2 separate regions of the Homo sapiens genome follow, and region 2 is linked to region 1. The links come from fine-mapping of genetic effects on gene expression. A gene starts in region 1. The other region holds a variant in brackets. All regions are shown on one strand. Distances are from middle to middle.

The links. PIP is the estimated chance that this variant, and not a neighbour inherited with it, causes the effect.
Region 2: its variant is the best candidate, but not a certain one, in a credible set for the expression of PIR in nasal epithelium (TOPMed, PIP 0.53).

The regions. Positions count from the first base shown.
Region 1 is chrX:15,491,344-15,495,883 of GRCh38, forward strand. It overlaps PIR (pirin), which reads right to left and starts at 1,990. Exons shown (of 10, transcript NM_001018109.3): 1 at 1,847-1,990. RefSeq lists enhancers at 1,400-1,902, 1,903-2,406.
Region 2 is chrX:15,418,752-15,422,751 of GRCh38, forward strand. All of the region lies in intron 6 of PIR (pirin), which reads right to left. All of the region lies in intron 5 of PIR-FIGF (PIR-FIGF readthrough), which reads right to left. Among named protein-coding and RNA genes, the nearest start is that of VEGFD, 36 kb to the left of the region's middle. The variant TTC/T (reference allele first, on the strand shown) is at 1,566.

The DNA.
Region 1 (4,540 bases):
AAAGGAGGGAACATCCAAGGACTACAAAATAAATGATATTAAGATTAGATGCGCAAAATAGTAGCAGCTACAATTTGTTGATGTCTTACTATGTGCAGGGCCTGGGTTAGGTGATTTAAAACAACCATAATGATGGTGAACATGTATGCATACCTACTAGGTGCCCAGTACCCCACCAATTATTTACAACTATCTCATGTAATCCTACAGTAATCTTGTGCGAAGGTTAGCGATACAGTCATGTGCCTGCCACATAATGACATTCAGGTCAACATTACACAGTCAACAATATATGGACTGTATGTATGACAGTAGTCCCATAAGACTATAATGCCATATTTTTACTGTATCTTTTCTATGTTTAGGTATGTTTAGATACACAAATACTCACCACGGTGTTGCAGTTGCCTCAGTATTCAGTACAGGAACATGCTGTATGGGTTTGTAGCCTAGGAACAATAGGCTATACCATATATCCTACTACACACCTAGGTTATACCAGCTAGGTTTGTCTAAGTGTACTCTAAGATGCTTGCACAACGACAAAATCACCTAACAATGCATTTCTCCGAACATATCCCCATCGTTAAGTGAAGCATGACTTTAGCAGCTCTGTTGGCCCCTTACTAAAAATCTCCAATGAACACTTTGTCTTTCTTACTTCACTGAATTCTCTCGATCTCCCACCCCTTCCCCAGTGCCACTCATCTGTCAGCCTCACTGGTAGCACCCATGAGGTAGTTGCTACCAATGAGGCTGACAGATGGGGGCAGGTTTGTGTGGCGCCTTAGAGAAAATGGAGAAAAACAAAGAGGTCCCTAACTCTTACCAGAACATGCTGAAGATCTTGGCATTAAAAGAGATCTTCGAGGGTCATTGAATTCAAAGACCCATCTATTCCTGAAGTTCAGGGCCAACATTTTGGGCAAGAAATCTTTCAGCTTACTCATGAAGTCTCCTAGAGCATAGGCAAGTCATGGACCAGCTGTTCTTGGCAATGTATCTCATATTTCAGGACTTACCTATAGCCAGAGTTTGTTATTCGAAAGTCTTTTCCTCTTTGGGAGGTCTAGGTTCTAATGGACTATCCCAGAAGGAATATAATCTATCCCTATTCCACTTCAAGTGTTTGCAGACAGTACCCCCAATCCCTTAAATCTTTTCTTCAAGTGAAATATACCCAATTCCTTCAAAGATTCCTACTGAAACGAAGAGAGGTGCTTTGGCAAAAAGCAGACTCTGGAACCAGACAGCCTAGGTTTGCATCTCAGCTTCACCACATATCAGCTGTGTGACCTGAGGTTTTCTGTGGCTCAGTTTTATCTGTAAAATGGAATGATAAGACCGCCTACCTCAAAGGGGTGCAGTTAGTGCTATGAGAATGTTAGCTGCTGTTATTCAGAAGGGCTCTACTCCACAATACCCTCCACTTAGTCAAGGCCTACCCTAAAATGTATCCTCCCTGAATAGTAATCGATAAATATTTATTGGGTGATAGGTTGCAAGGCGCAGAAACGAGCTTAATACTCAAAGCAGTACAGGCCGGTCATCACCTACATCGAAGCAACCAGAAAGTATCTTTATCCCCATCTAGATTATGTCTGGGTCCTTCCAGACTCCTACGATTAAATTGTATGCATGTGAACAACTGATGAGGTACTTAGATCTCAGTGCTTTGCAGAAAGAAAAGCCGTCTACCATTTTCACCAAATTTCGTAGTACAATTTAAGTATCTCTTGTTATCTCCCCTAGGAGTCTAAAGTGAGCTGGGGAAGGCAGGATTTTGCAAACTGACCGCCAGCATTCCCTCACCTAGTGGACCCCTGCAGGAGCCCCAGGTACTCACGCTGCGGTAGCGGCACCTGGAGCCTTAGCGGCGGGGGTGACGCGAAGAGCCGCCGGGAGCGAGTGCAGGGAGGGCAGGTTAAGAGAGTGTGGGTCCAGTAGCCTCACCGTGACTCAGCGCTTCGCGGCCGGCGGCCTAGAGGAGGCGGGAGGCGGGAGTCTACGGGTCTCGGAGGCCCTGGGGCTCCGCCCTCGGGAATGTCACTCCACTCTCGCTCCGCCCTACGCCTCTCCCAGGCCAGCTTGGCGGCCCTTTGGCCTCCCTGCCTCTCGTGCCGGGAAGAGATGCTCACTCGGGTAATTTAGGCGGCACTTGCTGTGCTCCAGGAGGAAATGTGTGGCCCGGGCAGGTGCTCTGATCGGCGCTCCGGTCGGTCTTGTGGGAAATCTGTTTTTAACTGTAGTCTCCCTGTCACCCAGCCGGCGGAGCTTGGCGGCACGGATTCCAGTGCTGCCTCCACCGCTGGGAGGCACCACTTGACATGACCTGGGACAGGTGGCTCAGTCTCTCTGTGCCTCTGGTTCCTCCTCTATAAAATGAGGATGGTGATGATAATAGTGCCAGCCTTATCGGGCTGAAATGAGAATTAAATGAGCCTGTCACATTCTAAGCACTACAGAATCGTTTGTTCCATAGATAAGTTGCCTGCTGTTTGTCAGTTAGAATTGCGAGAAAAGGAGTGCGGGAGTGGGGACGGGCAGCCATACGTCTTTATTCCTGCCTGAAGAGAAGGCACACTCTAGTGGGGAGATAATTGGTTAAGAGTTTGTATGGTGTTGGAACACAGTGGGCAGGCGTTGGAGAGTTTTTCCAGAAGAATGAGGAGCTGGCACAAGCCAGTGAGGGGATCTAGTTGATTACTAGGATTATTAACTAGTGGTACAGGCATAGCTGCAGTTTCTATTCTCTAAACACCAGAAGGCTCATTGCCTGGTTTTGAGAAAGGAAAGACAGTGGTGTCTCTAAAATAAGGTTGGAAAACTTTGTCTGTGAAGGACCAGATAGTAAATACTTTGACTTTGCAGGCCATGTACATTCTCCAGTTTGCCTTTGTAGCAAGAAAGCAGCCATAGATAACATGTAAATAAATGAATGTGGCTGTAGTTCAATAAAACTTTAATTATGAATACTGAAATATAAATTCATAAAATTCATACAATTTTGAGTTCATATAATTTTTACTTGTCATGAAATATTATCCTTCTTTTGATCTTAAATGTAAAACCACTTAAAATGTAAAAACCATTCTTAGCCCTCTGGCTATACAAAAATAGGTAGTGGGCTACCTACTCATTTTGGCTGCAGGCCTAGTATGCAGATCCCTGCTCTAAAAGAACAGGTTAGTAGAGGAACGAACACTTTTCTCTGGGCTTTTAAAATATCAGTGGGGCTTAAACCCGTCCTCATCACCTTACTTAGGCAGTTCAAGGCTAGCTGAGATAATACACATGAACATTAAAGGTGCTATGGAATAACAAAGTATTGTTTCTTATCGTCATTGTAACTAGTTCTGCAACTGTCTCCTCTACCTCTGCAGCTGTAATAGGTGTACTAGGAGTGAACGTTTCTCCTCTTTGTCTCTCAGAAGCCAGTTACAGGTAAAAGCTAAGTCCAAGGTTGTACATGGTTAGAGCAATGCAGGAATTCCATTTACAGGCCCCTGCAGAAAAAAGAAAAGAAAAGAAAAAAGAACAAGTCTGAAAAGGTAGAAGACTTAAAATGAGGAGAAACAAAGGTGAGAGAGGGAAGAATTCTTACAAATGAACAAAGGGCGTATAATGTTTCACTGTAACAGGGTCCTGTTTTGAGATGAGAAATGTGACCCTGTATATTAAGCTTTGAGCACTTTTCACACTGTCATTGACATCCAGATCAAGATGTGGAGTAGGTGGCTAAATATATGAGTGTGTAGATGGACTGTTGATCACCTTTGGAATCTTGGGAAGCATAAAGAAAACTCATGCTGATATGACAATGAACAAAGCCTTCCCTAAATGATTCCAAATAACACCATTATAATCTTTAAAGACAACCACATTATTTAGGTACCTTGACTCTTTTCTTTTTTATTCACGAATTCCATTTTCCTCCTCTGTAAAACTTATTGAATTTCTTTTCAAAGATACATATTATAGAAGTACATGGGGCCAGGCGCGGTGGCTCACGCCTGTAATCCCAGCACTTTGGGAGGCCGAGGCAGGCAGATCACCTGAGGTCGGGAGTTCGAGACCAGCCTGACCAAAATGGAGAAACCCTGTCTCTACTAAAAGTACAAAATTAGCCAGGCGTGGGGGCGCATGCCTCTAATCCCAGCTACTCGGGAGACTGAGGCAGGAGAATTGCTTGAACCCAGGAGACGGAGGTTGCCGTGAGCCGAGGTCGTGCCATTGCACTCCAGCCTGGGCAACAAGAGTGAAACTCAGTCTCAAAAATTAAAAAAAAAAAAAAAAAAGTACATGGACATCTGAAACACTTCCTTATTTTTGTTTCTTTCTTCTTCAAGCCATCAACTCAAAAATTCTTTCTTGTAGATTTTGTTAATTTGCCCTTCAGGGCAGTGTAGCTGCTATTCATTAGATGACAAATGTCTCTGAAATATTCCATATTATAAAGACTCAGACTCACTGAACCCAGGAAATCAATTGGCTCCAAGTCAAGGACTGATTATTTTATAAATGCTAGTTTACGAAGGCC
Region 2 (4,000 bases), 73 kb before region 1:
ATGAGAAACGTTTTCAGTCTCCCTTAACTGGATTTCCCTTGGAATATATGCATTTTCCCAGTATCAGGGAGAGGATGGTAGCAGTGTATGCTTCTATTGCTATCCAATTAGTCTGTTAATGATAAAACCAAGTCAACATTAAATTAGTTAGACTGCAAAGCTTATGCCAAAAGCCAAACATAATCCAGACATCCATGTCAAATCCCTTTACCATGAGTAACAAAACAATCAAAACATTATAAACGAAACATGTCCAGGACCCAGCCAATGGCCTACACATTTCACGAAATATTTGATACAACAAAGCACCCAAATAAAAAGAATCTAGACAGTCCTTGGAGTTTATGATGGAATTTGACCTGGAAAGGTGGAAAAAAAAAAAAGACAAATGGTGACCTTGATTTGAATTACTTCATAATAAACTTTATACAGCATAATTTTACCATCCAGTATGTCTGATGACAGGCAGCCAGGACTATCAAAGCTGCAAATAATGAGTGCTTTATAATACTTGAATTAATTGTTAGGCACTAAACAGAGAAGCCTCAAACTTTGTATTTGTCACCTAATGCAGTGGAAGCATGGATAAGTCTGTGTGTGTGTGTGTGTGTGTGTGTGTGTGTGTGTGTGTGTGTGTAAGACAGAGAGAGAGATAGGGGAGGGAGAGAGAGAGAGAGATACAGACAGACAGACTGAGAAAGAGAGAACACTATAACTAAAAGTGATGTATTGGAAAAGAAAGGATCTTTTGCTTCATAGCTGGGTTCATAACGCACTTGTTTAAAGTGGGTTTACAGACGCTCAATGCTAAATGTGCAATTCTAAGCTATTTCCTGTTGTATCCCTATAAAAATGTTTTTGAGGCCGGGTGTGGTAGTTCATGCCTGTAATCCCAGCACTTTGGGAGGCCGAGGTGGATGGATTACCTGAGGTCAGGAGTTTGAGACCAGCCTGGCCAACATGGTGAAACCCCATCTCAACTAAAAATACAAAAATTAGTTGGGCGTGGTGGTGGGTGCCTGTAATCCCAGCTACTCAGGAGGCTGAGGCAGGAGAATCGCTTGAACCCGGGAGGCAGAGGTTGCAGTGAGCCGAGATCATGCCATTGCACTCCAGCCTGGGCGACAAGAGCTAAACTCCGTGTCAAAAAAAAAAAAGTGTTTGAGGCTGGGCGCAGTGGCTCACACCTGTAATCCCAACTTTGGGAGGCCGAGGTGGGCGGATCACCTGAGGTCAGGAGTTCAAGACCAGCCTGGGCAACATGGTCAAACCCCGTCGCTACTAAAAATACAAAAATTAGCCAGGCATGGTGGCATGCGCCTGTAGTCTCAGGTACTCGGGAGGCTGAGGCAGGAGAATCACTTGAACCTGGGAGGCAGAGGTTGCAGTGAGCCGCGATCACACCACTGCACTTCAGCCTGGGCGACAGAGCAAGACTTCATCTCAAAACAACAACAACGACAACAACAACAACAACAAAACATGATTGAAAACAAATCTCAGGTTTAAAATTCATGATGACAAAATAAAATGCAAATACAGCTTTGGAAACTGACAGATATACG[TTC/T]TCTCTCAGGAGGCAATATAAGGTGATGTCTGAGAGCAGAGCAAAAATGAACATGAACCATACACTTCCTGCTAGTGGGATTGTGGAGAAACTGGTATTCTATATGCTGCTAATAGAAAGTGTGACTGCCTCTTTGGATTGCAACCTGACAATGTCTTTTAAAACTAAGCATGCATAGATCTGGTGACCATCCCTGGAAACCTGTCTCATCAAAATAAATTTCCACATGGGAAGGCAGATACACAAGGTATTCATTGCAGACCAGTTTGCTGTAGCCAAGCACTAGGAACAAAGTGAATTCCCATTGATAGAAAATAGCTAAATACATCATAGTATGTATTTAGATGATGTAGAATATCACTGTTAAAAGGAGCCACCATTAATGATGAGTGCCTGTAGTCCTAGCTACTTGGGAGGCTGGGGTGGGAAGATCTCTTGGGCACAGGAGTTCGAGGTTGCAGTGAGCTATAATTGTGCCACTTTACTCCAGCCTGGGTGACACAGAGAAACCCTGTCTCTTAAACAAAACAAAACAAAAGGAGCTATATAAGTAAACTGGGAAGGATTTCCATGAGTATTTTTCAGTCAAATAAATAGGACGTAAAAGAGTAGTTATGATTCCATTTTATTAAAATGACAAAATAACCTGATATTTGCATATATGTGAATGCACATATATGTCAGTGTATAAAAATAAGTGTGGAGAAAAATACAGCAAGATATAATTCAAGGATATATCTGTGATCTATATAGTGAGGGTACTGGACATAGATAAGGGAGGACAAGGGATTGGAGGAAAGCAACTCAAAAGTTTAAAGATAAAAGCACTGCACTAAAAGGTTAAAGCACACATACACTTAATGTTATAAAAATCACGGATAGTGAAGGCTTATGTTTAAGCAAATTAATCTAAAATTTTTCTGTACTTAAATAGCCAGAATGGAATCCAAAATTAGTAGAAGGAAAGAAATAATCAAGATCAGAGTAGAAGTAAATGAAATTGAGACAAAAAAATACAGAAGATCAATGAAGTGACAAGTTGGTTTTTTGAAAAGATAAATAAAATTGACAAACCTTTAGCTGGACTAAGAATAAATGAGAGAAGACCCAAATAAATAAAATCAGAAATGAAAAAGAAGACACAATAACTGAGACCATAGAAATACAAAGAATCATTAGAGACTATTATGAACAACTATATGCCAAGAAATTGGAAAACCCAGAAAAAATTGATAAATTCCTGGATACATACAACCTACCAAGATTGAACCATGAAGAAATAGAAAACTTCAACAAAGCAATAACTAGTAATGAGATAGAAGCCATAATAAGTCTCCCATAAAAAAAAAAAAAGCCCAAGATCTGATGGCCTCACTGCTGAATTCTACCAAACATTTAAAGACAAATTAATACCAATCCTACTGAAACTCTTCAAAGAGACTGAAGAGGAGGGAGTACTTCCAAATTTATCCTATGAGGCCAGCATTACCCTGATACCAAAACCAGACAAGAACGCAACAAAAAAAGAAAACCACAAGTCAATATTGCTGATGAACATAGATGCAAAAACTCTCAACAAAATACTAGCAAACTGAATTCAACAGCACCTTAAAATGATTGTTCACCATGATCAAGTGTGATTCATCCCAAGGATGCAAAGATGTTTCAACATTCAACATACACAAATCAATAAATGTGACACATCACATTAACAGAATCAAGAAGAAAAAACATCATTATTTCAATAGATGCTGAAAAAGCATTCAATAAAATTCAACATCTCTTTATGACAAAAACCTTTAACAAACTGGGTATAGAATGAACGTACCTCAAAATAATAAAGGCCTTATTATGACAAACCCACAGCTATCACCATATTGAATGGGAAAAAATTGAAAGAATTCAGTTGAAAAACTGAATTCTTCTGAGATCTGGAACAAGAAAAAGATGCCCATTTTAACCACTTTTATTCAACATAATACTGGAAGTCTTGGCCAGAGCAACTAGGCAAGAGAAAAAAAAAAAACAAAGGGCATTCAAATAAGAAAGGAAGAAGTCAAACTAGTCTTGTTCACAGATTACATCATCTTACACTAAGAAAAACTTAAAGACTCCACCAAAAAAAACCTATTAAGACTAATAAACAAATTTGGTAAAGTTGCAGGATACAAAATCAACATACAAAAATTAGTAGCATTTATATACACCAAGAGTGAACAATCTGAAAAAAATATCAAGAAAGCAATCCTATTTACAATGGTTACAAAAAAAGATTATAAAATACCTGGGAATCAACTTAACCAAAGAATTGAAAAATCTATACAAGGAAAACTATAAAACACTGATGATAGAAATTGAAAAGGACACAAAAAAAATTGAAAGCTATTCTGTGCTCATGGATTGGAAGAATTAATATCATTAAAATGACAATAC